3 separate regions of the Homo sapiens genome follow, and regions 2 and 3 are each linked to region 1. The links come from fine-mapping of genetic effects on gene expression. A gene starts in region 1. Each other region holds a variant in brackets. All regions are shown on one strand. Distances are between the middles of the regions. Region 1 holds the start of TPD52L1 (TPD52 like 1). Region 2 overlaps TPD52L1 (TPD52 like 1). Region 3 holds the start of LOC100126584 (a long non-coding RNA gene).

Evidence for each region.
Region 2: its variant is fine-mapped to the expression of TPD52L1 in tibial artery (GTEx, PIP above 0.99).
Region 3: its variant is fine-mapped to the expression of TPD52L1 in atrial appendage (GTEx, PIP 0.96).

The regions. Positions count from the first base shown.
Region 1 is chr6:125,146,968-125,157,657 of GRCh38, forward strand. It overlaps TPD52L1 (TPD52 like 1), which reads left to right and starts at 6,806. Exons shown (of 7, transcript NM_003287.4): 1 at 6,806-7,003. The coding sequence starts at 6,985. RefSeq lists an enhancer at 7,602-8,189.
Region 2 is chr6:125,246,317-125,257,006 of GRCh38, forward strand. TPD52L1 (TPD52 like 1) reads left to right here. Exons shown (of 7, transcript NM_003287.4): 4 at 1,966-2,067; 5 at 7,401-7,439. Among named protein-coding and RNA genes, the nearest start is that of HDDC2, 50 kb to the right of the region's middle. The variant G/GAAC (reference allele first, on the strand shown) is at 5,049.
Region 3 is chr6:125,195,460-125,206,149 of GRCh38, forward strand. All of the region lies in intron 1 of TPD52L1 (TPD52 like 1), which reads left to right. It overlaps LOC100126584 (a long non-coding RNA gene), which reads right to left and starts at 2,358. Exons shown (of 4, transcript NR_149043.1): 1 at 2,323-2,358. The variant C/A (reference allele first, on the strand shown) is at 5,666.

The DNA of each region.
Region 1 (10,690 bases):
TGACCTACTATCAGTCAAGGTAGGCCAAATAATTTATGGCCAGCTCCTACACAGAAAGGTGGGGCAAGGTTAGAGGAATGTATTTGAATGCTTTGAAGTGAAGGAAAGGGACCTAGTATTTGGCATGCCAATGTGCCATACTTTGGTGTATAGTGTTCTGAGCCTCAACAATCTCTTTTCCTTTCTTCTCTCAGCACTGCTTGGAACATGTGTGTGTGTGTGTGTGTGTGTGTGTGTGTGTGTGTGTGTGTGTTGGAAGGTTATGATGCAAAAGTTAGTTTTTGGGTGTCTATGGACCCTGTCACTTCTGGGAACCAGCTCCTCTTGACTAAGTGTGTGGGATGGGAATTGAGAGGAAGGGGAAAAGAAAACCCAAATGACCCCATATCCAGATGGATGAGGTTGACAGTGTGTTCACTCACCAGCAGCTCCTGCAGGCCCTGGTGGAACCTAGCCAGGCCTTGTGCTGCACCTCTCTGATGTCCACTTCACCTCTAGCTTTCGGCTTCAGTGGTCCTAGCTAGTATTCAGCCAACTAATCTCCCCTGGCCTCCTCCAAAGCCAACTCTCTGGTGGGTAGACTCCAATTTCCATGTTTCCTGAGAACTGGGAAGTTGGTAGAGGTGGAAAAAAGGTGGTGCTGGTCCCCTTTCTGAGCAATCAAACTATCTCTCCTCATTCCTTTTGCCCAGCTTAGTAGTATGATGTGGGGTGAGGTCAGTAAGTCCTCCAGCTAGGCTGAGTTCTGAATGCCTCTCCCTTTGTGCAGCCCCTCCTACCCTCATGAAAGATTCTGTTGCACCCTTTTCTTCATGTGGCTTCAGGAAATGGAAGCTGCCTTTCTCCAGCCTCCTGGGGATATTGGCTTACTAGCTAGTTCTCTCTCCTCACTAACTTCCACCCCCTACCTGGGGCTTCAAGGAAACTCCTCTCTGGCTTCCTACACCACTTGAGAGGGTGAAAAATTCAAAGTGACAAAGAGCACTTGTTCTATCCCTAAGGTTTCTCAAAACTATCTGGCCATCAGAGTTCTCAATGCAATTGTCGAGGCCAGGTTCTCTTTGCTCTCATGGGAGTAAGGAGAAGAAGGGTGAAATCTGTAGACAGAGCCATGTCTAAATCTTTCATACTTCTCTGCCCTCCCCAATGTTTTTTTCCTCTCCAACTCCCCTGGAATTAGGGGTAAAAATTCTTGTGCTGCCTGCTCATATTTCTTTTTCATTATTTTCTGTTTACTTGGGTGACAACGTTTTAATTTAAAAGCTGAGACTATAGAACCTTTCATCTTTGTTGTGGACAGTTTCTGAAATGGTCATTGTCAATCTTGGAAGCACATCAGTATCACCGAGAGAGATTTAAAAAGACAAATCAGAATACTTGTGGGGTAGAACCCAGGTATCAGAAATGTTTAAAAGCCACTCATGTGGTGCTGATGTAGAAGATGACTGGGAACCACTGCTTTAAAAGCACAGGTGCCCAGTGGGATAGGAGGGAAAGAACATGCCCATTAATACCTCATATAGCATCGTGACACAAATGCAGAAAGCCAGGCACAGAGAGACTGAGACAATTCCTTTAGGTGATACAGCTGGTAGTTTTCAGAGTGGGAATCTAATGGAGCCCCAAAGCTCATGTTCTCTTTCAATGTATTTGTAAAGTTCATAGGCCAGAGCAGCACACTTCACCTGTCCTTTCTACTCCTTCCTCTCATTTCTGTGCCCTGTCCACCTCCCACGATGCCTTCAGACCCATACATTACAAGTGACCGGGAACTGGTGTAAGTAAAAACTGTTGAATACACATTTCCTTTGGACAGTTGAGATTTCTACTGCATTTCACCCCTATAGAATGATCAACTTTCTAAACAAACTTCGTTCTTATATGAGTTATAGTGCTATCGGTAGAGACCTGAGTTGATATTTCTTACTCCTTGTCATGCTTTCTAATCGCATGACCAGGCAAGCCTTGGGACAGGACTGTGAGTTTCTAGTCTTGTCTGAAAACATGACTGTCTCATGTTAATGTTAATGTCAACACCAATGTTAATGTTAAAGCAACAAAATACATTAAGTAAGGTATTTTTAAACAGAATTTCATTGATTCAATCAAACACTTGCACAGCGTTTTGCATCTGGAGTGGCCATAGAGACAAAGGAGAGGGTGAAGGTGGCTGTTTTAATAAGCTTTAAAGAAGTTAAGAAAGTTCACCATCTTAAATGACAAGGAAAAGACAAAGAAAAGACAAAATAGAAAAATCTTCATTTTTATAATATGTTAACTTCAATAATAGTCTTCTTTGGCTAAACCATTATTAGGGGGATAACACAAACTTGCCTGACTAATTCCTTTACTCTTAAGACACAGCTGAGGCAAGCATTTTGAAAGAAACATTTCTGTACTTCTCACCAGCCTGAGTTAGGAGGCTTCCCTCAGTGCTCACAGACGCACTGGGCTTACCCTTTATGCACAGCGCTTACCACGAGGCGCTGCTTTATAAAAAACCTGTTTATCCCTCCTTCTCACCAGATCATGAACTCCCTGGTAAGGAAGGAGCATGTCCTTAACCCATACCCTTAGCATCTAGCACAGTCCCTGGCATATAGATGTTCAATAACTATTTTGGAATGAATACCAATATTTTATTATTATAAATAATGATTGAAAAATTAAAAGGGTAGCAACTTAAAATGTTATAAATCAGAAAAATGAGTCAGAGTGTAGATGAAGGTTAGATGACTCAAGCTGGGAAGTCATTAACTATTTTTAGCTCGTTTTAGCAGCAGGGAGTCAACCCTAACCTGGTGTTTAATTTCCAGGGTATAGAAGACCAGAACAACGGAATAGACTTTAAAAGTGATTTAATCACTGATTCTTCACTTCATGCATCCCTGGTCACTATTACCAAAAGTCATTTAAAAGCCTTATGCTTAGTGTTCTACATAGTAATTTTAATGGCAATGATTACAAATCAGTGAGATCTTCAACATAACAAAAACCACACTGAGGTGCTCGTACATGTGCCAGGAAACCATGAGTAGTATTCCTTCTTTCAAGAAAAAAATGTAAGACTCCATTTATGTTTATTAGTCTATACTGTGCAAACTTGGGCATGGATAAAATATAACCTACTGGTTAGTTAATTGTTTATTCAATAAATCTTTTTGAGCTATGAAATTTTTATAAGACTTTTTGTCAGGAATTATGGGAGGTTTAACATAATATCCACACTCAAACCTGACAGACTTTACCATCTATTTTAAGAAAGGAAGAGGAAACAAAAACCCAAGTGGCAAACTATTCAAGACCAAATGTAAATAAGTACCACATTGTATTTTACAGATGAAGATCGTGTAGATGTTGAGAAAAAGGGGAGATCTGTAACATCCAAAGCCAGAGGAGTAGAGATGGGAGCTGATATTTCTTACTCCTTGTCATGCTTTCTAATCTCATTACCAGGAAAGCCTTGGAACAGGGCTGTGAATTTCTAGTCCTGTCTGAAAACATGACTGTCTCATCAACCTGCAAGTACAACCTACAGGGACTCATGGATAGAGACCCCAGAAGATTCAAGTTTCCTGCTGAGGAAAAGCAAGGCAGCTCTGCCTTCTTGTTTCATCTCTCCAGTCTATAAACAAACCTTTTTTTTTTGGTGATTTTTCTGGGCCCCCCAGGATAGCATTGAAGTACTGTCTAGTGTTCCTAGGTGCAAGAAGGTTGTGATGTGCCTTAGAGAGAAAATATATATGTTAAATAAGCTTAATAAACTTGATTCTGGTATGAGTTTTAGTGCTGTTGGCTGTTAGCTCAATGTTAATGAAACAACAATATACATGATATACATGAAATAAGGTGTCTTTAAACTAAAATATATAAAGAAACAAAATTGTGTATTGATCAGTTGACAAAAATGTTAGAACCACGGCTTGTGGAAACCTACCTTCGTATCTCCACTAAGAGTGATGGCTCAGTATTGTAAAACCATGTTCTCTTCCTCTGTCCAGGGCATAGTATCAGACCTTTACAGGCACAACCCGTCTTATTGCGCTTCTCTTAACTGTGCTTCACAGACACTGCATTTTTTTTTTTTTGATGGAGTCTTGCTCTGTTGCCCAGGCTAATCTCGGCTCACTGCAACCTCTGCCTCCCAGGTTCAAGCGATTCTCCTGCCTCAGCCTCCCGAGTAGCTGGGACTGCAGGCGCGTGCCACCACGCCTGGCCAATTTTTTGTATTTTTAGTAAAGATGGGGTTTCAGCATGTTAGTCAGGAAAGTCTTGATCTCCTGACCTCGTGATCCGCCCACCTTGGCCTCTCAAAGTGCTGGGATTACAGGAGTGAGCTATCGCGTTTTTAACAAATTGGAGGTTTGTGGCATCCCCATGTTGAGCAAATCTATTGGTGCCATTTTTCCAATGCCATGTGCTCACTTGATGTCTCTGTGTCACATTTTGGTAATTCTCACAATATTTCAAGCTTTTTCATTATATTATATCTGTTATGGTGATCTGGGATGAGTGATCTTTGATGTTACCATTGTAATTATTTTGGGGAACCCTGATCCATGCCCATATAAGACAGTGAATTGAATCAATAAATCTTGTGTGTGTTCTGACTGCTCCACCAGCCAGCCATTTCCCCATCTCTCTCCCTCTTCTTAGGCCTCTCCATTCTCTGAGACACAACAATATTGTAGTTACGCTCATTAATAACCCTACAATCGCCTCCAAATATTCACATGAAAGGAAGAGTCACATGTCTCTCACCTTAAATCGAAAGCTAGACATGATTAAATTTAGTGAGGAAGGCATGTTGAAAGCTGAGATAGGCCAAAAGCTAGGTCTCTTGTACGAGTTATTCAAGCTGTGAATGCAAAAGAAAACTTCTTGAAGGAGAGTAGAAGTGCTACTCCAGTGAATACACAAACGATAAGGAAGTGAAACAGTTTTCTTGCTGATATGGGGAAAGTTTGAGTGGTCTGGATCAAACCCGATCAAAGCAGTCACAACATTCTCTTAACCACAGCCTAATCCAGGGCAAAGCCCTCACTCTCTTCAATTCTATAAAGCCTGAGAGAGGTGAGGAATCTGTAGAAGAAAAGTTGGAAGCTAGCAGAGACTGGCTCATGAGGCTTAAGGAAAGAAGTCATCTCCATAACATGAATGTAAGGTGAAGCAGCAAGGGCTGATGTCAAAGCTGCAGCAAGTTCTCCAGAAGATCTGGCTAAGATCATTGATGAAGGTAGCTACACGAAACAACACATTTTCAATACGGATGAAACAGCCTTATATTGGAAGAAGATGCTACCAAGGACTTTTACAGCTACAAAGAAGTCAATACCTGGTTTCAAAGCTTCAAAGGACAAACTGACTCTCTTGTTAGGGGCAAAAGTAGCTGGTGACTTTACATTGAAGCCAAAGCTCATTTACCATTCTGAAAATTTTAAAGCCCTTAAGAATTATGCTAAATATATTCCACCTGTGCTCTATAAATGGAACAACAAAACTTGAATGACAGTACATCTGTTTACAGCATGGTTTATTGAATATTTTTAAGCCCACTATTAAGACTTACTGCTCAAAAAATGTTTCTTTCTAAATATTATTGCTTAATATTGGTTAATAATATACTTTGTCACTCAACAGTTGATGGAGATGTACGAAGAGATTAATGTTGTTTTCATGCCTGGCAAAACAACATTCATCTTGTAGCCCATGGATAAAGGAGTAATTTTGACTTTCAAGCCTTATTATTTAAGAAATAAATAGATAGCTGCCATTAATAGTGATTCTTCTGTTGGATGTGGGCAAAGTAAATTGAAAACCTTCTGGAAAAGATTCACCATTCTAGATGCCATTAAGAACATTTATAATTCGTGGGAGGAAGTCAAAACGTCAACATTAACAGGAGTTTGGAAAAAGTTGATTCCAACCCTCCTGAATGACTTTGGGAGTTCAGGACTTCAAAGCAGGAAGTAACTGCAGATATGGTAGAAATAGCAAGAGAACTAGAATTAGAAGTGGAGCCTGAATATGTGAGTAAATTGCTCAATCTCATAAGACTTGAATGGTTGAGGAGTTGCTTCTTATGGACAAGCAAAGAAAATGGTTACTTGAAATGGAATCTACTCCTGGTGAAGTTGTTCACAGCATTGTTGAAATGACAGCAAAAGATTTATAATTATATAAACTTAGTTGATAAAGCAATGGCAGGGTTTGAGATGATTGACTCCAATTTTGAAAAAAGTTATAATGTAGATAAAATGCTATCAACCAGCATTGCATGCTACAGAAAAATCTTTCATAAAAGGAAGAGTCAATTGATGCAGCAAACTTCATTGTTGTCCCATTTTAAGAAATTGACACAGCTATTGCAGCCTTCAGCAATCACTACCAGGATCAATCAGCAGCCATCAACATCCAAGCAATGCCTTCCACCACCAAAAAGATTCCCATTAGGTGAAGATGATCTTTAGCATTTTTTAGAAATAAAATATCTTTTTAAGTTAAGGTAGGTACATTGCTCTTTCTAGACATCGTGCTATTGCATACTTAACAGACTACAGCATAGTGCAAACGTAACTTTTATATGCATTAGGAAACTGAAAAATTCGTGTGACTCGTTTTGTTGCAATACTCGCTTTATTGCGGGGGTCTGGAACCTAACCTGCAATATCTCTGCGTTATGCCCTTATAGCGCCGGGAGTGGGTGCCTTCCGCCGGCTGTACAGAGCGCCGGCAGGTGGCGCCCAGCGGCGAGCTTGTTCCAGCTTGGTTTGGGCCAGGTGGACTGGAAGGGGCGGAGGTAACCAGAAGCGGCTAGTGGCGGCTGCCTGCGTCCCCAACCCCCTCCGCGCAGCGCTCGCGACACGCGTGCCAGGAGTGGGAGCGAGCGGCGGGGCCAGCTGCGTTCTGAGCCTGGGCGCAGCTGCCATCTGCTCTGGGAAGCACCAGGGTGTCCCCGCCGCCCTCAGCTCGAAGTCAGCCACCATGGAGGCGCAGGCACAAGGTGAGTGGTCGCCGATCGCCCCGAGAGTCAGGTCCTGGGGCGCGCATAAAGGCTCTTTTCCTGCACCACCTAACTTCGCTCTCGGACAGAACAGATTGGTGCCGTGTTGCACATCCAGAACTCCACTCCCACCCGCGCCTTTGGTATAATGCCTGCTGCCCAAACTCAGGATTTGCTGTGGGTCTGGGGATCAATAAAGTGACAGGGGATCCGTAAGTGGAGAGGCCCCTCCTCAGGAAATGCGCCCGTGGAATGCTCTACCCTCTTCCGCAGCCAGTCGCCCCTGGCCTTCCCAACCTCGCGGCTGCCCGAAGGACCTGTTGTGCCGGGTCCGGAAAGCGTGTTTCGCTCCCTTTCCCTTGAGGGAGTGGGGAGGGAATGTGACTCTTTTCGCCCAGCGCCGTGGACTCGCGGCTTGTGGCTCCCAAGTTAGGGAGTGAGAGGATCGCCCGCCGAGGGGGTGGCTCCGCAGCCCGGCTGCGCGAGACGCTTCCCGCTCGGGGACCCGCCTTCCGAGGCCAGGTGAACGTTACCGGCCCCCTGACCTCCAGCAGATCCACACGTGAGTCCCGGTTTCCGCGATCGGGGAGCGACCTCTGCCTCCCGTGGCGCGCGGGGCCCCCGGCCGCCCAGCTCCCTGCTCCCGGGGCTGCCTGCTGGAGGAGCCTGCGGTGGCTTCAGGAAGGGCGGCCTCATATCTTGGGGTCACACTTGGAACAGGGTTGGGGAATTCCGATGGAATCGTTCAAGAATGGGGGTAAACGGACCGTGGAAAGGGGCAGAGGTGGGCGGATGTGGAGCGAGAGACAAGTGGGAAGGAAACGGACTCAGTGATCTACCTTGGGGAGCAACGCCCAGAAGGGATGGCTTGCGGAGTTCAGCCTTTAAGGCAATCAAAGCCACCATTCTTTTACACAGTAGGAAACTCTGTGTTGGCTCTTAGTATAGATAAAATCTCATTAAAAAGAAAAAAAAAAAGGTTCATGACCTGATGCGCTCGCCCTCTAGGGGCAGAACGCCCTGAATGAGAGTGGGTTGGCGATTGCGTGGGCCTGGAGTCGCCCAACAGGTTTGCTGCCAGGATTACAATTGTCTGAACAGCACGAACCTTACTCGTTTGTTCCATCCTCCTAAGTCCTGCCCGTAAAGCTGCCGCTTCCCATATTTTTTCCTCTATTATGTAGATAGGAAATGATAATTCAACCAAGGGTGAGGGCAGTTGGTCAAATTCAAAAGCAGAGGTCAGGTTGGAGGCCTTCACGCCAGAACTGAAGCTGGTGGGAGCAGCACCGGAGCTTTCCAACCTGACTTGCATATTAGAATTATTTAGAGAGTCTTCATTACTGGCCTTGGCCAACCCCATCCCAGTCAAACTGGAATCTTTGGAACCTGAACATGGGTATATTTGAAAGCTTATATTAGTGAGGATGGAGAAGAACTATAGCAGATAGGAAACATTCATACAACTTCTGAAGACATCCGAAACTACAGACTGGTAACCACTGGTGTCACTGGTTTGCTTTATTGCTTTGCTTTACTTCCAAGATTTACTTAACAAATATTTCAGTGCTTTCCTTTGCCAAGCACTGTGCTAAGAAGAGCAAAGACAGACTTGGTATCTGCTTCATAAAATTTACAGTAGAGGAAGAGACAAATATTAATTTGATAGCTATTTGAAAAATAACATGTAAAATCACTGCCATGCTGATGCTAAGAAAGGGCCTCATAGTGCAGCGAGAGCCTGAAAAACTATAACCCTAGTATGCAATAATCAGAAGAGCAGATTGTTTATTGTGTCCCTGTCTCTGTTCTTCGTGCTTTGCATGTATTGATGGACTCATTTCCTGTGCGCAGCAGTCCCATGAGGTAGTTCATATTCTCATTCCCATTCTACAGAGAGGAAACAAGCATGGAAGGTATTAGGTTGGTGCAAAAGTAATTGCAATTTTTGCCATGACTTTTTAATAAGTTCCTTGTTTACAGCCAGATAGGTAAAAAGTAGCAAAGTGGATGCTGTGAGGGACCCATTCTCACTCAAAGCCTATGACTTTTGGAGGAAAGGTAAAACTTCAGTCCCCACCTGAATCTCCAGCTGTCCTGTGGTGCTCTTCCTTTCCCCTCATGACTGGATGGAAACTTTAGGTGTAAAGAGGACTAGTAAAAAGGCAAATGGATATGAGAAAAGTGAACAGATTTAATAAATACTTAAGAGGCCAGGTGCAGTGGCTTACACTTGTAATCCCAGCACTTCGGGAGGCCAAGGTAGGAGGATCACTTAGAGCCCAGGAGTTCGAGACCAGCCTGGACAACATAGAGAGACCTCATCTCTACAAAAAATAAACAGAATTAGCTGAGTGTGGTGGCATGTGCCTGTAGGCCTAGCTACTTGGAAGGCTGGAGTGGGAGGATTGCTTGAGGTCAGAAGTTTGTGGCTACAGTGAGCCAAAATCCCAGCATTGCACTCTAGTCTGGACAAGAGTGAGACCTTGTCTCAAAAAAAAAAAAAAAAAGAGAGAGATACAAAAAAGGCCAGCCACACCTGTAATTCCAGCACTTTGGGAGGCTGGAGGAGACAGATTTTTTGAGCCCAGGAGTTTGAGATCAGCCTGGGCAACATGGTGAAACGCTGTCTCCACAAAAAATACAAAAATTAGCTGGGTGTGGTGGTGCGTGCCTGTATCCCAGCTATTTGGGAGGTTGAGGTGGGAGGATCACCTGAGCCCAGCAGGTGGAGGCAGCCGTGAGCTGTGATTACATCACTGCACCCCAGCTTGGGCGAGAGGGCAAGACTCTGTCTCAAAAACAGATAAACAAAAAGAGAATAACAACAAAAAAACTTAAGAAAAGTCAAAATTGGATTGAATGTGAAGGAGGGCAGTGTCAAGGATGACCAGCTTCCTACTTGTACAATCAAATGGAGGATAATTACCTCTTAAATCTTTATTTGCCTAGCATTTTAAGATTTTCATTTTCAGACTTTTTGTTATTTATAAAGCAGAGATATTGAGTTATTTAAGAAAAAACTTCTCACAAACTGTTTATAGCATATATTAAAGGGAAATCTTTTTTCCACTTGCACATTTTTTCTGGCTAAATGAATGATTTGCCTCTTAGATTCTAGATAAGACAGTTCTGTGATTTTTAAAGTGTAAGTTTCCACCTTCAGCACAGTTTATTTTAGAATTACCTAGAGTGGAGATGGCTTGTCTTTCTGCCTGCTAATCTAGAGACAGGTAAAGATAAGTGAGATTAAGCAGGCAGTTGCTGATGAGTTGTACCTCATATTGTCCAGGAAGACACCAAGGTGTTATGGACATGATTCGCCCATATAGCTCAGTAAGTGCAGCAACTTACTGCACTAGAAACTTTCCCATAAGTGAAATTATGCAAATATGTTCTTTGACTTTGTAAAATAATAGATTACTTCCAGCAAAACAAGAGGACTCTCAGGGGAGGTGGTAGGACACTAAACAGGAAGTGGGATTATGGGTGGAGCTGTTCACTGAGGAGGGCTGGAGAACAACGTGGAGAGAGATGTCCACAGGAGAATGGCATTCCTATTTGCTTTCCTCTGGTACCAGATAATTTTGCTTTAAGACAACTGATATGTTAGAGAGGGAATTGGGTTGGAAATGTAGCATTTTCCCGAAACATACAGTAGTCCTTTAAAATAAAAACTTCCTGATC
Region 2 (10,690 bases), 99 kb after region 1:
CCGTCTCTCAGAATTTGCAGTGGTGTGCCACTCCTTTCAAAGGATCTGTGAATTCTTTCGGTGTTCCTGGTAAGTTCCTATGGTGGTTCTTGGAACAAAAGTTCATGATGTGAGTCTCCACACACTATTCTGTCTGAGCAAGTGCAAGATGCACATTAGCCCTGTCTCCTATCTGCCATCTTCTGCCTGTCTCCTTGATAATAATATTTGATTTCATGTATAAACTGCCTGAAATTCCATGGTTTCATGTAGTCAAAAAATGTTTTTCCAAAATTAAAAGCTAAAATCATGTAGCAAAATGTAAAAATAAAATTTAATTTGAATGAGCTGACATTTTTTGGACCTTCAGAGAAAAAAAGAAATTAAGCAAACTTCCTAAAAGCTGTTCATTTCTTTCATCTTGTCTCATTTGCTGTTTGACCCAGTGCCATCTGGCATCCACATTCCTTGTTCTCCTCACACAGTCCTCTCCAGAGACACAAATTACCCCCTAGTCACCAGATTCTTCCTTGACCCTTATTCTGCTTGGTCTTTTCATTTTTGATAGGAAATGTCTGTTCAGTAAATGAACATTTGGTTTTATGATCTAGTTAATGTATGTTTTTATACTTCCTAAAAAAACATTGTGTTAATAAATAACATATAATGCTAACAATATTATAGACAGATTCCATTCTGCTCACAAAAAGAATACCACATTAATAAAGTTATTTCTGTCCTAGGGAAGACCAAGGCACATATTTGAAAATATTCACTAGAGCCTGAGATCATACTTAGGACTGGATGACTTGTGGGAGATGGAAGGGGTAGAGGAAAAAGGGCAGTTCCTACATAGCTGATTTCATAGGGTATAATGTTTTCTTACAGATACCATATGCATGCAAGTATAACAGGGTTTTGGGAGAACTTACCTGGGAGCAGCATAAATCAGAAGAAGACAGCATATGCATTTTAAGATTTGAGGGTTTTTTTTAATGTGTATAAAAATTTTGTTGATTTACTATTATTCCTCAAGTTATGTACCTTTTATTTCCCACTTTCATAACCAACTCAGAAATTTCTCATCCCTATAGGTAGCATCACTGTCCTTCCTGTCATGATGCTCACAGCCTCAGGACAACCTTTGGTCTTGCTCTTATTTATCACTTACCATCTCCTGTTGAATCTGTCCATTCTATCCCTGTAATCCATCATACCTCTTTCTTTTCCTAGTGCCACTACTCCCAGTTCAGAGTCACAAAAGGTTGTCCCTTTTGATATCACCCACTCGTTCATCTACTATTTATTGAGTTTCTTCTTTATCCCTTTGTCAGAGACCAGGGACACAAAGATGAATGGCTTCCTTGCCCTCAAGTAGTCAAGTCTAGTATGACATAGGCTTATCAACAAATATTCACAGTATATATTCCTAAAACTGTTTTGAAAAAAAGTCACTATATTATCTTCAGATAATGTGCTTTTATTATTCCCAGCTATAAATACTAGAAAAGTAAGCTAAATAACTAGCTGTGTTTTGCCTTTTTCTGGCTTATTTTACCCAAATTAACAGTGTAAGCTTAGATGTACCTTCAAAACCTAAACCTGCATTCTCTAATTTCTGTGTCATCCTTGATGCCTAGAGCTGTCATTGACAAGTGTCTGTTTTAGAACTAATACACTTCAAGAACAACATTCTGCTCACTGAGCAGTTCCATTATTTGTCATGAAAGAGCTGCACATTCAGATCTGTATTTGTATTTGTATCTGTATATACTTCCTAAATTCAGATTTAATGGTCTGACTTTCCTTCTGATGAACAGCAGCCAACCCATCATCCCCAGACAATGAATGGAAACAGTGGTTTTGTGGATCTTCTTCCTAAATCTGTTGAGGAAAGGACATTTTCAAAGTAAGGAGTGAGAAGGAAGATGAATTGTTTATGGGAGATCATGATATAAAAACCATGTTGTTCTGTTTTATTTCTAGCTACAAGAAAACACATGAAACCCTGAGTCACGCAGGGCAAAAGGCAACTGCAGCTTTCAGCAACGTTGGAACGGCCATCAGCAAGAAGTTCGGAGACATGAGGTACTGTGGGAAAATACCATGGGAACGGCGCTAAGCCCTTGGCTTTCCGATTGAAGGGAGCACTAGCTATTAGCTGCTCATCTCAACATATGTATTTTTTTATTTTAATGGATAAAAATGTTATATGGCTGATATGATTGATGACTAAGATAAATTTTCACACTGGGACATTTTCTGCCTGAAGGTCAGGCTTAGGTGGCCTGGTCCCAGAGTTGCTGTTTCTACTAGGACCCGACCTGGTAAAAATAGAAGATACAGGGTAGTGAGGCAGATTTGAAAAGAATGCAGCATGTGCAAATTCTTACTAGCTGTAATATAAATGATAAATTAAAACATGCATTTAGTGGAATGCACTCCCATAAACTATTCTAGATTGCATATTTGTATACATCCATCTAGTATATTTTTTCTGTGTTAAATAGGTACATATTTATCCTTTTATTCCATAAAGGTACCACACATATACACTTCTGGTAGTTTTCTTTCTTCATTTTCTAACTATTTTGTGAGTATGTTAAATATTTATTGCACCTTCATTTTTAATGAATTTATCTCCCAGTGCGTAGCTATAGCAATGCTTTTAGATAAGTAACCTTGCACATTTTCATTATTTTCAATATTTCACTGTTACATAAAATAAGGGTGACCATCAAGGTTGATTTTGACTTGAGAACCAAAAGTTCTCACTGGAGGCACCAGGAAAAAAAAAATGTAGTATTGCCCATAGTTTTTCATATTATATACAATATTATATACAATATATTATATACCATATTATATAGAGGTATTACTCTTAGTTTTTGCTTATTTAAATACCAGTCATAGTTTTATTTTGCATTTGGCTGATATGCCTTGGAGGATTTTTCTTTAGAAATCAGTTTCATTTTTCCCTCTATTCTTTAAAAACTTTTCGAGCACATTTTACATTTCTTCTTTAAAAAAAAAAAATCTCTGCGTATTTATTTTACTGGATTCTTAAACTGTTACTTTTTTATTAAAAAGAAAAAGCTTTGGGCTGGGCACAGTGGCTCATGCCTGTAATCCCGTCATTTTGGGAGACTGAGGCAGGTGGATCCCTTGAGGTCAGGAGTTAGAGACCAGCCTGACCAACATGGTGAGACCCTGTCTCCATTAAAAAATATATATATATACACAAAAATTAGCCAGGCATGGTTGTGTGTGCCTGTAGTCCCAGCTGCTGAGGAGGCTGAGGCAGGAGAATCACTTGAACCCAGGAGGCAGAGGTTGCAGTGAGCCCAGATCACGCCACTGCACTCCAGCCTAGGCAATAGAGTGAGACTCTGTCTCAAAAAAAAAAAAAAAAAAAGAAGGAAAAGCTTTGACACTGAGAGGCAAATATCTTCCTAACTTTACACTTATAGATACATCTTTATAAATTATATTATTAAATTTTATTTACTTCAAAAATTGCTGGACTGTCCACAATATTCATTCACTATTTTAACAACTAGGCATTCACAAGGACATGTGCATGAATCTGAGTACATTGTTTTATCTTCATTTTTACTAATGCCACAATAATAAAAAGTAATTGAAATTCTTCAGAAGCAGGTGTGATAAACAGGTAAACCTTCTGGATTATTAATTACCCCTAATTTTATTACAAATAAAATTTGTAATAATTTTAACGGCGTTATAACATTTATCTAAACTAATTAAATAATCCTTTAAAATAGGAAACCCTCTATAACCTGTTATACCCAAGAAAACATATTTTCCCATGTTTATAAAATTGATTCTCTTCATACTGTGTTGAAATCTTTCACTTGAACCCTGGGAACTCCAGCATGACACTGCTAACTAGAATAGTGCTTCTGCATCTTTAGGAGATCTTACAAACACCTCTGAAGCTTGTTTAGAATACATATTCTTAGGTTGCACCTCTCAGAGGTTGTGCTCAGTAAGTCTGAGGTGGAGTCTAGGAATCTGCATTTATAACAAGCTTCCAGATAATTTGGCTTCAGAGGGTCAGTTTATGAGGAAGACAGACATAGCTTAGCTCACCTGTATCTGGGGTTTTCACTAATAAAATGGAGATAAGAATAACAATGTCACTGGACTGTTATAAAAGTAGCAGAAGAAAGTCTGACATGTATTATGCACTCAAAAAATTGCAGTTTTTTATCTTTAAGTGACCAGCTCAGTTACAAGATGGCCCCACATGGTAGAAATTAGGGAGAGTACATTAACAGGAGCCCACTGTATTTCATAAAGGCCCTGCTCATTGTTTTTCCCAATAGTGAAGAATGAAGACTGTGTTTCACATATGCAATATGTTGGCATTCATATTCAAACACTAATTGGGTACAATGTCAAGGTTGTATTGACTGCCTTTCCTCCCGTTTCAATGTGGCTTTGTCTAGTATAGTGGATGGCCTATTTTCCAGGACTTCCAAACTTTCCATTTGTTATTATCCCATGTAGAGGGTACAACATTTTCATTATAAACTGTGGCTAAAAATATTGGAAAATACAATCTGTGTTGCTAGATAATCAAATACAATCCTGAAATATTTTGAAGAGTTTGAAAATTTCAGAGCTTTATTTATATAATATTTTATGTGTATATTTCTCTCAAACTATATCTAACATTTGTATATAAATGAGAATAACTCTTTGTGAAAGCAACAAGTTTTACAAAGATTTTTACTTTTAAATTATGCCCAAACAAGTAATATAAATAAAAGTCATTTTGAAAGTGTTTAAACTTAATAAAAGACCTTAAATGGGAAAAAATAGTAAGCTTTGATTGTTTGTTCAAAAACTAATGTGCCAATTTGTAAATATGGGGAATATGTTAAAATTTGGTCACAGACCTTTTATTTTAAACTTCTTTTTGGTTAAAAGTGTCATATTAGTCTACATTTTTATTAGTTACACTATAACATTTTTGTGCATTCTGGTAACAAATTTCTGAATGTATTCAAAAACATTACCAGCAAAATTCAGATAGCTTGGAA[G/GAAC]AACAACAGTACCTCTCAGTTTTTCTTTAAAATAACTCCAAATTAATATTTACAGATTTTGTAAAACCTAGAATTTGGGCCTTTTAATAGCTGAAAAAAAAGCTTTATGTTAAGATTTAATTTGTATGTTTTGTAAAAATAAGTTATATTTTTCTGAGCTAAGTAAGATTCTCATTTTAACCTGATTGTCATGGAATTGCCCACTCTCTTTCTCCATCCATAAAATAACATTGTTAATACCCACTTAACCAAAATATTTCCTGTGAAGTTAAAATGAGGTCACACTTAGGAAAGTACTCAGAAGAAATCCAAGCGGTTGGAATCATTTTTCTAATAACATTGGCATCTTCTGGGAACTTCTCAGTTAATTTGTTCAAACTGATCCACTGGGGACAAAATGTTTGGAGAAGGCATGTCATTTTATTACAGTCCAATCATTGTTATATACTTATAGGAATAACAGAAGCAAAACTTGAGTTGGTAAAATGATTTGTCAGAGACATTAAAAAGTCAGTGTAATCAAGAGTGGTAAATGAAGCTACCCTGTCTGTGCTCTGGGGCCCTTGAAAGGGGACCACCAAGGGCAGTGCAGTGTTTCTCTGCCTCCTGTTTGCTAACTCTGCTCCTGCTCTTCTCTCCTGTGCTTCCGGGCTGCAGGTCTCACTCCATCGGGTAAGCGCCACAGGGCTGCGTGTGGGGCTTTCCCCACTCCCTTGCTGCCCCTTTGCTTTCCAGGGCTCCCTGTTTCTTTCACACTGTGCCTGAACCAACAAAACTACACTCTGTTTTCCAGACAGTTCCCGTGACCAGGAAGATAGTTTATAGGGCACTTAATACATTTGAACTTATTGAAGTACATCTCTATCTCATTTCTGAATCATTTACACCATTTCACTTGCTGAGCTCTCTCTCAGGAGTCTCTTTCTCTGCACCATTTCTTCCGGTGTTGACAGAGCTTCTTAGAATTGAAAAGAAGAAGAAAAAAAAACAAAGTGGAGATTGAAAGTTATATATGTTTTCTGAAACTTCTAGAAAGTAAAGTTGAGAAACAAAAACAGATTTTCTCTAGATTGTCATGTTTCTCTGAATTTCTTGTACCCATAATTTGTGTTGATGTTTCACCTTCAACTTTCTGTGCCTTCTGAAGTTGAAGGGAAGAAAGGTACCGGAAAAGCACGTACGTATGTTAAGAAGTTTGTGATTTTTAATCCCAAGCCCCCGAATTAAAACTTCTTTTAGCCGGAATCTTATTATATACTTTTATTTTTTTAATTTTTTCCTAAGAAAGCGGTCTATATTTACAGAGATACACCAATTGGTAATGCAGATGAGGCTCTTTTAGTGATGCTTTTGAAGTGTAATTTCTGAGGAAATATCTGCCTAATAGTTTCTAAATCAAGTGTCTAGGGTAAGACCGTAAGTATCCCATGAATTTGTTTGTCCTTTTCTTTCTGTGTTCTAGCAAAGTGCTACCCATACTAATGCCCTCAGTGGATATTATGAGGGAAGGGTGACAGATTTGGTCCCTGAACTATTAGCTCCTTGAGAGAAGAGAAAGCAGGGACGCTGTTGAAAAGTGTGAGGTGGGAGCAAGCACTAGGCCAGGAAAATGGACCCATTGTGCTCCTCCCCATGCCCAGCCTGATTTCTGAGTGGAACTCAATAGAAAGTAACAGGCAACCAACCAGAGGGAAGATGAATCAGCTACTAGGATTAATGGGATGAGAAGTTTAAATCTCTTAAAATTCTCAGGAATGTTTGTGTTTGTACCAGATGTTCTTGACAGTCATCTAGTACAAATCAATCATCTTGACAATCAAACCAGAATGGATGCAGAAGTCCCTATGGCCTATGAGAACTGTGTTTGCCTGGCATGTGCTTCCTTGAAAGTCTTATGTTAACTTCTTGCTTTCCTCTGGCCAGTTTCTCTACCATGGAATGATTAGCTTCTACCTGCCTGGCTCTATTTCCTGGATACTGCCTTTTGCTCCTTACTGTTTTCCTGAGCAGAAGGGAGTAGAGACCTAAGTTGGGCCTGGAGAAGATGCCCATGGGCTACTGGGCTCACCTGGGAGAAACCAGACATTCTCAGATTTCCTGGCAAAAGGAGGCTGCAGAAAGTAAAATAATATGCAACCACGGATCCACCATCTACTTTTCATTTATACCCTTGAAAGCTGACTATACCCATTATACCCAACAAAAACAAATGTCATCTTGGTTAGATGGGCAGGGAATATTTCAGATATTTGGAATTGCTGTTTTAGAACTACGAATAGGGAGTTTTTCATGTACTTATGTGTGCTCTCTTCTTTTTTCTTTTTTCCCCTTTAATCTGCTTTTGCTCTGAAGTTACTCCATTCGCCATTCCATAAGTATGCCTGCTATGAGGTAATGTGTGTAAAATATTTTATGTAATATTAATATGAAATGTGTTTAAGGTGTTATTTTATTTATATTTACTTATGGGGTTCCTCTGCTTTATGTGAAAGGAAATTGCTGATGGTCTTCAAAAGAAAAGGCTGACAATTCTGTGGAAGAATTGCGTAGCTTGGGCTTTTGACCAGACATCCTGGCTTAAATCTAGTCTTTCCTGTGTGATCCAAGACAAGTGACTTAACCTCAATTCTTTTATCCATATATTGCAAGAAATAAGACCTACTTCATATGGTGTTTGTGAGGCATAAACAAAGGAACCTACATAAAGCATTTAGCACAGTGTCTGAACATGCCAAGCAATCTTGCAAAGGTAAACTTGGGTTTCTTATTTCCGCAGAATTAAATGCTAGCCTGGGGGCAAGTTTAAATGCAAGGCTAAAGTTCTAGAGAGGATATCATTAGGATTTTTAAGGTGGATATTAAGGTGAGATGTTTGTTAAATAATAAAATGTCAGTATAATTACTGACCAGATAAAAACTGGTGAGAAAGACATTCTTAACTTCAAGTTTGCATGGCATAGTGATGCAATCAGATAAAATTAAACTAATAGCAAGACAGGAATGAGTGTTAAATTGAAAATCAGAAAATGCAGGCTCTAGCCCAGCTCTGCCAAGGATTAACTTTGCACTCTTGGGAAAATCACCTCAATGGTATCAGCTTCATCATATTTAAAATAAGAGGCTAGAACCAGATTAGCTGCTTGTCAAAGATGCCCCTCCACCCACCGAGCCCTAAGGCTGCCTAGAGATGAAGCCTTTGGGATCTTCCCCCACTTCAGTCAGAGCTATGCCTCTTCTACCTGCTTTATATTGATGTTGTTGTTTGAAGGCATTATAGAAGGAGTTTAGTTACTTTCAATAGTTTGAGACCGCCGAAGCCAAATTCTTCATATATATAATCTTTTCCTCTGTTTTTTAACTGTCATGAAGAGAAATTCTTCCTAGGGTCATTTGCAGTGCTAAAAAAGTTTGTACATCTGATTAAATCTTATTAAAGTTGTACATCTGATTAAATCTGATTAAAGAGCTTCTCCCTGTTCTCCAGCATGTATTCTAGTATAATTTAATTAGATAAATGTCTGTTCTATTATATTTTATGAAGGAAGGCTCTTCTACACTGGGGTTATGTGGTTAATTGGTTGATTTGGAAATTCACCCTCAGTATTTAGTTCTCTGTATTTGGTGGTAAACAGAGAGTACAGATTCAAGATTGCTTAATTCATCTTTGAATGGCTTGCTCTCCCTAGAATAAGAATGCCCCAGTTGGGTAGTGGAACCTAAGGCTCTGTTCCCCTTTACTTGTCAAATTTTAAATCTGGGTGTCAGAAGAAGGCTAGTAAAAATTAACATGGTTTTCCCCTGTGAACCAGGAATTCATCTAGTAGTGGCTAATGGGTCAAATGTAGTCTGCATGAGCTTGCCTGAAACTAACTTAAAAAAAAATTATTTTGCTTGTCTAACATATACCCATGAACCATTTCCTCACTGTGGGCCTGTGTAACTGATGGATGACAGGCAGTCATGTGTGCAGGCTTGGCCAAATAAAACCTGCAATGGAAATGAAGTGCCAATAACTATATACTTTTTGAGTCATGCAAGTATAATTTTACTAACATTTCATCATGAAACAGCATTACGGAGGATCACTCATAGGAATTTGACTCGTGTTTGAGTCGTACACAAAATGTGATGCCATGTCAGGGCCCTCTGAATTCACCATTGTTAATCTGTACAGCCTGAATGCAGGTACATTTCTGACCATGTGGAGCACCAAGGACTCAGGAGACAATCCCCAAATTCACTCATAAACATCTATGTTCATTGCCTTTTAGTAGTATAAAAGTGATACTTCATTCTGCACCACATAATGAAACCTATATTCTATAGCTGTTCTCCTTTATAAAGTTTTTCTAGGCCATTCCTCTTATTTTACTTTTTTTTTTTTGCACTCAAGAGAGAATAACAAGTGCCTTATTAATTCAACATTTAGTTGAATTATTTGATCTGAAAATGATGGCAGTTGTTGCTGCTGAAAGCTGACATGGATACAAGATTTAAAATACACTTAGTTCAGTTCCTGTTTCTTTAGTAGGAGCTGGTGGTATTTTTAATGGTGGTGATGTCATTAAATTATAATATCATGGGGCCAAATCCAATACAGAAAACCAGAAAGCACCAAATGAAGTTTTTAGTGCTTAAAGCAACAAAATTATGTATAGATTATTTAATACAATGAATGAGTCACAAATAAAATGCCATTAGGGGCCAGGCACGGTGGCTCACGCCTGTAATCCCAGCACTTTTGGAGGCCGAGGCAGGTGGACCACCTGAGGTCAGAATTCGAGACCAGCCTGGCCAACATGGTGAAACCCCATCTCTACTAAAAATTCAAAAAAAATAGCTGGATGTGGTGGTGGGCACCTGCAGTCCCAGCTACTCAGGAGGCTGAGGCAGGAGAATCGCTTGAACCTGGGAGGCAGAGGTTGCAGTGAGTCAAGATCAGTTCACTGTATTCCAGCCTGGGTGACAGAACGAGACTATCAAAAAAAAGAAAAAAAAAGCCATTAGGCTGCAAAGGTTCTATTTGGTAAGAGAACAAGTAGGTATATCTATTTGAGAGGAAAAATAACGCATGCTAATAACCTCCATTTTGATTGGGCATTAGGTAGGTAATGGGTATGTTTCATCTTAAAATAATGAAAGCATTAACTTTCCAAAACACCACTTCATGTAAGTTGTCAAAATGATTATTTTTTTAAGGCATGGAAAAGAAAAAATATATGAACATTTTTTTCCTTGCACTATTTCTGAATTGTCTCACATTTGCTGAAATAAATAACTTTAAAAAATGCCAAGTGGCAAAACTCAAACATGACATTCATCATATGGATTTTCCATTGCTTACTAAAAAACCTGAGTCAGGAAGAGGAGTGTTGTGATAGAAACAATAAATGCTAAATGAAAACTTAAGCTACCCATTGCTCCACTGGCTCATTGGAAATGATTTACAGTGTACCATGGAATTATTACAGTTGTGTCATTGCCAAATACCATATTATTTACTGTATTGTGTACTGATCATTTTACCTAGAAAAATTCCATGTCAGGTTATGGTTTCTGAACCTAACCTAACAGAAGTGACATACATTTTAAAACGTGGTTGGTGCAGGTGGCAAGCTGACAGGTAGCTCTGTGGCAGAGGC
Region 3 (10,690 bases), 48 kb after region 1:
AGCATGTCTTCTGCATTTTGTGTCACCCATCCATGAGAGAAAGGTTTTATATAAAATGAGTAAATTTTTGAGTGGTATAAGATTAAGTAAATTTTAGATCTATGGAAAAGGCACTTACGTGAAATTCTCTGATGATACTGAACAAATTGCATTGTTGTCTTGGTCCAGTCAACAGGCATCTTTTTGATCCTTTGAGGTACCAAGCAGGTTTTACCCTTAGGGCATCTGACCTAGCTGTTACCTCTCCCTGGAAATCTCTTTTATTCTGGAATGTCACATAGCAACTCCTTCTTAAGGCCAAGTGCACTGACCCATCTTAGAGAGGCTTTCTGCAACTTCTCAGACCATTGTTGGTTTTGCATGGTGACAAAGCCTGTCTCCAGTCACTCCATCACAGTGCCCTGTTCGCGCTATCACAGCCAGGCCAGTTGTTGCCCACTTGCTCATCATATGCATCTCTTAAGCTTCAGGAGAGCAGAGGCCCTGTCTGCTCTGATAATCATTGTATCTCCAGGACCTAGAATAGTGCTGAGCTCACAGTAATGCCCCTTACATCATACTATATTATTTAAAATCAGTGGGTTTTGACATTGGCTGCCCATCAGTGTCACCAGTGGGGATTAACAAAACACAGATGTGCAAGGTTAACCTCAAAGATTCTAATTCAGTAGGACTTGAGTGATGCCCTTAAATTTGGCTCTAAATGTATTAATCATCAAAGACTCAGGAAAACAAGGAAAGATAAGCTTTCTGTAGCTTCCAAAGTTGTAGCTGTTTTTAAAATTGTTTATATTTTCTTTTAAACTCTCATCCCATATCCTTAAGCCTTGTGACTGCCACAGAGAGAAAATAAGATCAAGCATGAGCTTACATTAGCCACAGAAACACCTGGGGCAGTTCCAAAGTTTTAATTACTGCTTCATTAATGTAAAAGCTTAACTATAGTTGTAATGTATAAACAACTTTTGGCATGTGCCCTGCAAATGCAAAAAAGTCTAAATAATTATTGTCGTGGCTCCTGTCTCAACGCAAGACCAATGATCGCCAAATTATTTTTAAGACATGGACTACATTAAAAAGTTATTGAATTATGTTTTCTGTTAGCTTATATAAAGCACATGACATTTAATAACTTGCAAAGAAATGCTTATTTTATCTGTAATATATACTTTGGTGTTTATCAGATTCTGTTCAAACTGTGTAGCAAATTTCCTTGAAAATAGAACTTTCTTTTTTCCTCACATCCCTGTATTTGATATCAGACTATTCTTAGACTCTCCACCTCACTCATCACCATGGTGTCTACGGACTTATAAGTATGACATGCTGTCACCCTTATTTATACATGAGGTATGGAGGTGAGCGTGAATAAGAATCTTGCTCAGAGCCAATTAGTTGCAGATCCAGCATTGGAATTCCTCTCCCATAGTATCAAAAGTGTAGTCATATTCCTAGATCATTAGGCAGGAAGAAAAAGAAAATAAAAGAAAAACTACTCAGAGACATCTGGCCGGATCTGTGCCTTTCATCAGAATAATCATGTCCTGAATCTCCCACTGGGGTTGTCAGAAAAGATTTTTCCCAAGCTTTTCTATACCACGGAGAGCTACATTTAATTTATAACCTGAAAGTATCCCCTAAAACAGACTCATAATCATGCTTGCTGAAATTTTAGCCCAGCCTTCTTGCTTGCTGAGAAAAGAGCTGGCTGTCCTTTCTCTTTGAATAAGCCTCCTTGTATGAACAGTCTCTAGAGATGTCCCTTTTCCAGATGAAAATCTGTTTTATGTGTTATCATGTTGACCTTCCAATCCCTTGAATGATTTTACGTTTTCATCTTGGTAGGTCTGTTCTCTCTATAATCTAATTTAATAGTTCTAATCTGCACATATCCACCACATATCTAGTTCAATATCAAGCAGGTATCCAGTGAGTTCACAAACTCAGAAGGGCAAGAAATATAACTTTTCTTATTTTTCGGCAACTCATTTTCACTTCTATTTTGAGTTCTTTTTCTACCAGGAGAATTTTAGGGAAATGTTTGCCCCCAGATCAAGAGACACTCTCCTCTTTCTGCTTGCTAGGCCCAAAAGAACAGACTCTTTTGAAAAGTGCAGAGTTTAGAACTCTAAGAGGAAGAACAGTCAGAAGGATTTTTTTTTAAGCAAAGTCTATTTTTCACCCAAGGTGGAATATAATATAAAGTACTAATCAGTTATACAAACATGTTATTTATAAAATAACAGCCCACTAAGCGTCAGAGGTGAGGGGTTGCCCCATCCAATTTTCAGAGTCTAAAAGAGGCATCTGGGTGTCCATTACCTGAAACAGCACAGGCGCTAGTGTCTCCAGAGAAAAGGAAATGGAAGAGGGAGGCAGGGGATGTTACAACAGGGTGTGATTAATAGCAGCTCACTGCTGGAGTTCACTCAGGAAAGGCTGGGTAAATGCTGCAGCTCAAGGTCAGTGTGAGGCAGGCCAAGGGATCGGTTAGCCCTGGAACTTCTGAGTGAGTCCTTGGCTCCAGTTAAATAAGAAGCAGCCAAGATCTGGGAAGGTCAACACAGTCAAAGCCCTACCAGGAACTAGGATTATACCCTGGGCTTCAAGCCAAGACCAGGGCACTCTGGCTGATCTGAGTGTGATCTTGAACTCTGCTTTGCCCTCTGAGAGAAGGAGCCGAAGCTCTGTCTACCTTCAGGGACAGAGGTCTGGAGTTAGTTTCCTGATTACAGCAGGAACAACCCAAGAGGCCATCAGATACTGGGAGGTTCTTACAGTGCTCTAAACCCTTTCAGGCAATTTGAGTCTTCTGTGTCTATTGTCTTCACAGGCATCTTGTATAGTGTTGGAAACCTATAGTGATAAGTGATTTTCAGCTACTTACTAGAGATGGGAGAATTTCAAAGTCCTTTCCTTCATTGTCCATCTTTACTCATTTGGGTAGAGTTATACCCAGTTCTATCCCTGCATACATACTTGCATGCATGGGGTAAGAGAGATCTATTTACAAACACGTGACCACAAACACATGACCAGCTTCCAAAGCTGAGAATGCCAAGGACACATGGAAGTTATTGGTCACCTGAGTATAGAAAAAGCAGGGAAACCCAGCTCAACCACTTTCTGTCTATGAACGTCAATTTTCCTCTTTATAAATTAGGGATGTGTATAAAATAATGTGCATAAAATCTTTGGCACAGTGCCTAACACATTGTGAACACAAGTGTCAGCCAAAATTATGAGCATGCAGCTGTCTCTGTGTCTGTTGAGCAGAGCTTCCTCAATGTGTTGTCAATGGCTCAATTTTGGAAACGGGCAATGTCTCGAGACAGTGCTGATTGCCACAACTTACGGGATGAGTACTACTCGTATCTAGTTGGCAGAGGCCAGATATACTGCTGAGCATCCTGCAGTGAACACACAGTTCCCTACAATCACAACAATGAGTTCCCCTACCTGAAATTCCATAGTGCTGAGGCTGAGAAATCCGGCGAAATGGTCATAGCAAGATGAGATGAGTTTAGCTGATTTCCTTCATCCTTAGGAATAAGAACATGTTAACATATTAACATTATTGACCTCTACCAGCACTTAAAGGACAAAAAGCCTATCAAATCTAAACCTTGCTATGAAACAAAATCTGATTCTTGTGAGAGAAAAGTCTTCCTTGATTCTCAAGAGAAAGTAAAAGGTTTTTGTGGTTTTGACTTAAATAATTCTAATGACTCGATTTGTTTATTGGACAATAGATTGAAGGAGCTAAGCTGGATTTTGTTGATTTTAATTTTTACCAGTAATGTAGTATAAAAAATGTTTTGCTAGACTTGTATGATTTACTAAATAATTATTGATATTTGCATATCATGTAGGATCAAGAAAAAGTCACATGTTAAATTCTGTGTACAGAGATAATTATTTTCAGTCAAATGAAAGTAAAAGAGGCCAGGCGCAGTGGCTCACGCCTGTAATCCCAACACTTTGGGAGGCTGCGGCGGGCAGAATCACCTGAGGTCAGGAGTTCAAGACCAGCCTGACCAACATGGTAAAACCTCATCTCTACTAAAAATACAAAATTAGCCAGGCGTGGTGCTACATGCCTGTAATCCCAGCTACTTGGGAGGCTGAGGCTGGAGAATCACTTGAACCTGGGAGGCGGAGGTTGCAGTGAGCCAAGATTGCACCATTGCACTCCAGCCTGGGCAACAAAAGCAAAACCCCATCTCAAAAAAAATCAAAATAAAAGTAAAGGAGATATTAAGTTTAGCTTGCCTGCAATATACAAATTAAATGTGCTAGAATTGAGCACTTATAGCACAAATTATAGGAAATAAGATAGTGAAAAATTAAAAATTACTTAGGTCATAAAAATGCAGAAAATACATAAAGATGCTTTGGAGCCATAGAGCACCTGTTAAAGCTTGACTTTCATTGTATTTCCATGTTGTTCCATTACATTAGGGGAAGCCTCCTTAGTGGCTCATCACCTCATTGCCTAGACTGGGTAAGCAGGGACACAGGGTCATTGCTACCTTTCACAGGTGCTTTACTGTGCTAAACTTCTGAAAAGCCACCTTTTAAAAAGGGAACATGCATTTTCAAAGCCACTGATTATTAAACCCCTCTTTCAGTCATCTTATTTGCAGACTTTCATTTTTGAGCTTTGTTTGCCATCTGGGAAGGATTTTGAAAGAGAACATAGGCCTCTTCCTGCTTTTATGTTCAGCATGCCATGAATTGCATTAATGAATTCTTAAGATCGTTTGATCTATTTAAAAAAATAGCTCTAGATTCAGTCAGTTGTTAAAAAAATGTGTTCAAGATTGTCTATAATTGCACTAGCCACAAACAGATTTTCGTAGGTATTTTCTTTGTAAAGAATCTATTTGAAATATTGGAAATGTTTTCAGGAACTAGAGACAAAAGATATACATGGTTTTTTGAATAATTTAGCATGTCCTAATTTTTAAATGTCCCTCAGTAGTCATTTATCTGCAGAGCAAGTAAATACAAATTTTAAAAAAATTAACAGTTATATACGTGCTTATTGTAAACAGTCAAGTAATACAGAGGAATATAAAACAGAGTGAATCATCTTCTCCCTGTCCAACCTCACCCTTTTGCAGCAGCCAACATTAACAATTTGGTACATATCCTTTCTCAACTTTCTCAATGCTCATACAAATGCATGGATGTTCATGTTCACATAAAAATGGTGTTTTATTCCTCCCCCAAATGGTGCAGATGCAAATATGATGCAGTAACTTGATTTTTGCATTCAACAATATACAATGAAAATTCCTCCTAGTCAATACATGTCAATCCAATTCATTATTTTGTCAACCTAAGGTAGTCATAAGGGTCAGAATCCAATTTAAGGAGAGGTTATTTAAGTGCATATTGTGAGGGTGGCCAACTCAAACATGCCAACTCCAAAGGAATGGAGTCAGCGTTCTAAAGTAGGGAAATTAAGGTTTCATTTATGTAGTCAGGGACAGGGAAGTTTTTAGCATATTTCATTTTTCAGACAGGGTTGGCACATTGTTACAGCAATTTGATTGGTTTATAGGCAGCGTTTCTTTTTGGAAAAGTTACATTTAACATTCATTACAGAGGGCATAGTAGTCATGGGTTTTCTGTCATGTGGTCTTAGCAAAGCAAGGTA[C/A]CAAAGAGGAAGTCAATCTATAGCAAGGGTCATTAAGAAGGCAGGAGATTTTTGTCCTGGACATTTAATTATCTCTAGCCATTGTAGAGAACGAGAAAAATAAGAAAGTGAGTTAATGTATAATCTGAGAAACAGAAATTATAACCATATGTGACTCAGATCACAGTCACATCTTTCTCAAGACTTAAAGTGCTTTGGGGGTCGCAACAACTTTTGCATTATATTTATTTTCACAAATTTTAATAACTGAAAAATAGTATACAGTGTGGGTATATTATACTTGAATACTGGTGCCCTACTGATGGACGTTTAGGTTTTTGTAGTTTTCTACCACTACCAACAATGATTTATACTCTCTCCTTAGGTTTGCACCTTTTTTTCTGTAAGATTGATTCTCAAAAGTGGGATGGCAGTGTCAAAGGCTCTCCCAATCAGGTGTCACAGTGCAAAAGCCAACAATGTGTGGTTAAAGGATCCATTTTTTCACAATCTTGCCAACACAGGCTCTTATCCCATTTTGGCTTCTTTGCAAATATCTTAGATGAAAAACAGTATCTCTGTGATTCTAATTTGTGCTTTCCCTATTGCTAGTGAGGATAAGTGTCTTTTCATATTTCATCTCACCATTGCATTTTCTTGTCTGTGACTTGAGTGAAACTTTTCTAATTCTTGCATATTTTATTCTTGCTCAACATGTCACGACTCAGAAACACATATTTCCATCTCCTTTAGCATTTATTTTGCTACTCAGATTTCAGAAGGAAAAAGGATTTTTTTCCTGGGCATTGTCAGTAGTAGCTATTTGGAATGCTAAAGATTTGATAAGAGACATTGAAGAAATGTGAATGTTACTGAACCGATTTGCTTAAAGTAAAGGGAAGACTGTCTATACGTCTGACCAATGCTTTTTGAATGTTCAGGCCCCTGAATCTGGCTGCAGTCCCAGTAGGCATGGGTCCAGGCGTGATGTGTTTGTGGTTGCATCATGGCATCGCTGTCTAACCCTCGCCTTTGCATTGAAGTTGTGCAAAGATTAGAGAACTGTAAAAATCTCAGGCCTGTCTGAGGAAGTCTTTCTTACTATCTATCCCTTTCTTTAAACATGCCTTGAAAAAAAAAGCTACATTTTGTCCTGCTTTGTGTTCATAGTGAATATCTTTCATTGTCAAGAAAATTTTTTCCTGAACTAGCTCTGAAAGATGACTCAGCACTTTATAAGATCAGTGAGCCTTTAAGGAATGACCTAAGATGGAATGTATCCTGTCCAGTGAAGCTCAAGGCATGCACAGGTCGTGTTCACCTCACTCCCTCAGGAGTTGAAGGAGATAAGAAACTGGTCCCACAGCCCTCAACTCTAGCTTGGGTGCCTCGCAGCTACTCAGCTAACCAAAGAAATGAGTGGAAAATCAGTTCTCTGGTCTATTTTTGATGGTGTGAGAAGAAGGAGGATGAGGAGGAGAAGGAGAAGAAGAAGAGATTACTTCTCATTTTAATTGAAATGAGTGACTTTTTATTAATGAGCTTGAATTCAGAATAATTTATTACCCTGGAGTTTTCTTATAATATAATAAGTGAGACTGTTTTCCTTTTTGCTTAGGGCAAAAAATGTAAGGAGGCTGAGTGTTACATTTGGAGGTTTATCTTTTTTTTTTTTTTTTGAGACGGAGCCTTGCTCTTGTCACCCAGGCTGGAGTGCAGTGGCCCAATCTCAGCTCACTGCAAACTCTGCCTCCCCGGTTCAAGCAATTCTCCTGCCTCAGCTTCCTGAGTAGCTGGGATTACAGGCACCCACCACCACACCTGGCTAATTTTTGTACTTTTAGTAGAGATGGGGTTTCACCATGTTGGCCAGGCTGGTTTCAAACTCCTGACCTCAGGTGATCCACCCACCTTGGCTTCTCAGTGGAGGTTTATCTTGTCAGGTTTGGCTTCCTTTTCCCAGTTCCATGAAATGTGAATTTGAATATGTGTTTGTGTGGTCAGGGAGAGTGTTGGGAAATGAGGGTGGGATACAGAGAGAAGGATGATTTAAAGGTTTAGATGGTCTGGTTATTTTTAGTTTTTCTATTCCCATTTCTGCAATAGTTTTTATTTTTCCTCATACACTATGGGAGTTTGTTCACAGAAGGAAGTTCCTGGAGCCTATCCATCAGGAACATTAACTATATTTTTGTTTGTTTTTTTGCATAACTATTTGTTTAGTTTTTCCTTCCCAAATTTGTGGCTGCTGTGTTCTTGTGACTTTTTGTCGGGGGTGTTTTTTTCTTGCTTGCAGTGTTACCCACAATGCATCTATTTTGTGTGTATTAAACAGTCCCTTTCAAGAGTACAAATAATGGTTTGAAATAGGAAGAGTATCCCAAATGCTTTAATCTTATATTTGAAATGTAGGAAATTGGAGGAGCTGAGGATATTTGTGACACATATTTTACATCTTCTCATTGAAAGTAGAGCTGTTGTTTGTCTGCATGGTTTTGAGTTTGGTCACTGAAATGCTAATGACACAGCAGAAACCCTTGGTGTGTGCATAAGGCCACATGACCTCAGGTCAGGAATAAAAGCTTAGGGCTGAGCAGCTCACTCTTTGGTTGAGAATCCAGTTGGCTCCCCTGGAGTGAAGTTCTACACAGACCCTGGAGGAACCACCCCATCTGTAAGGAACCTAAGTTTCTGTATTTCTGGCTTTCATTGTAGAAAACCTGATGTCTTCTATACTTGTTCCCTTGACCTACTTCTAAAACAGTTTATAAACAATTTCAATAATATTCACAGTCAAGTAGAGCTGTCTTTTACTGATATATTCTAAACAACATAAATTAAGGTGGAGCTTAGAACATATAACACAACTATGTCCTAATGACATGAGGAGACACCTTTCTCCTGCAAATAGTCCCAGATATACATCAGTTTTCAACTTGTCAGGATGGCGGATAAGATTCTGCTGTAGGTGTCTTTAATTACCAAGTGGAACTAACATTCTAGTGTTACCTGCAATGTAATGAAGAGCCTGATTCATCTTGATCTTTTTCACTGTACTTACTTATCGTTTTCCTGAGAAAGTGTGGCTTTAGCATTTGTTTTACCTGAGCATATAAAGGTATAAACTCAAGCAGAACATTGATAGAATGAAAGCTAGACCCTGGCTTAATGTAGTCCTTGAAGGAACAAGATGCATTAACAAAAATGGAGTGATGGTTCTAGTAGAGCTGGTATACTGATGCGTGCTGATTGTTACTTCTCTAGCACATGTTATTTGCTACCCTTGTTAATGGTCATTGCATTGGTTGCAAGTCTTGGTTATTTTATATTCAACACTTTAAGAAGAAATGTGCTTCCCTGGCTAGTTATCAGATTTTTTATTTTTATTTTTTTTTCGACGGAGTCTCACTCTGTCGCCCAGGCTGGAGTGCAGTGGGGCGATCTCGGCTCACTGCAAGCTCCGCCTCCTGGGTTCACGCCATTCTCCTGCCTCAGCCTCCCTAGTAGCTGGGACTACAGGCGCCCGCCGTCACGCCCGGGTAACTTTTTGTATTTTTAATAGAGACGGGGTTTCACCGTGTTAGCCAGGATGGTCTCGATCTCCTGACCTCGTGATCCGCCCACCTCGGCCTCCCAAAGTGCTGGAATTACAGGCGTGAGCCACTGCGCCAGGCCTATCAGATTTAATTTATAGGCATTTGAATAGTACAAATGTAAGGGCATGATAGCTAATTAAATTATTCCCCAAATATTTATTGAACACCTAGTGTGAACAAGGAAGCAGTGATACGAAGAATGGGGCATCTAACAATCTAGAGGAAGAAAAAGACAATGAATTGTGGAATTAAAATACAGCATAGTAAGTGCTTCAATATTAAGTCACCTAACTCTTTATTCTCCACAATGTTTAGCAAATAATCTTTTGCTGTTCATTTGGTTTTTCAAGTAGATTTTGTTCTGAGGAAGGAAAGAGAGCACAGAATTTACCTTAAGGTATTTGGTCTACTAGTCAAACCAGTCTCCCAGCAGATTTGTTAGTAGAAATTATCTCCCAAGAGGCTAATCACCATTGTGTAAACTGATGGAATACAATTTCTGGACCTAAGAAAACACAGGTGAAGCCTTGGAATATGATATGTCTCAAATATGCAGCAAACTTGGTGACCCCGACCTGAAAGGCCGGCTGATCTTATGTGGTAATGAAAGCTGGGTCTTAATGCAGGGACATTTTCTGTAGTTAGCCCAGTGAAATGATGTCCCAAGCCAGCCACTCCCACGCTTCTGAGCAGTGTCACCTTAGATGGTCCTTCCCATCACTCCAAATTTCCACAGCTTCCAGTGCCTTCAAGAGCATACTGTATAGGCACAAGCTAGGGATGGGACCAGGGAGGCCTTGGGTAAAAGCAGCCAGTTCAGGCTCTCTGAGATTCTTGTCTCTGGAGGTGAATAGGAGTCCTTGCTTAGGTCTTGGCCACAGAGATAATAATTTAGGCTTATGTATATTCCTGAAACCTTTAATTGGTTTGAGCTCCTGGAAGATTCTCCACCCTTTAGGACCATGTGGTACTTGGTTAACTGTTGGGTACCATATACTTTCTGCTATCTTTAGTATTACATTGAATTTTGGTGACTTAATAATACATGGTTAACCTGAGATTATTGTATCAATGGTATATTTTTCCTGGCAGTCAGAAGATGGCCACCTTGTACATATGGAAGAATGAGAAAGGGAAGGAAAGAGTTCCATGTATTTGTTGACCTCTATATGTAATAGCACGTCACTTCCATTTTTAGCCCAAGTTAGGTTTTGGACAGCCACAAATGTTTCTTTTGAGACTAGAGTCCATTTTAATCAGCATCTAACTATTTGGATTGTCACCTAAGCAGCATATTTAACAACAACAAAAAAGGAATAGATGTTTAATGTGGTCGGCTACAACTTCAGAAGCATCTTCTAAGCTCTTTCTATAGTCAACTGATTAGTACATTCTCAGGCTGAGCATTGCAGACATAATTTCTTTTTTTAGCCACATTATTAATGAAACC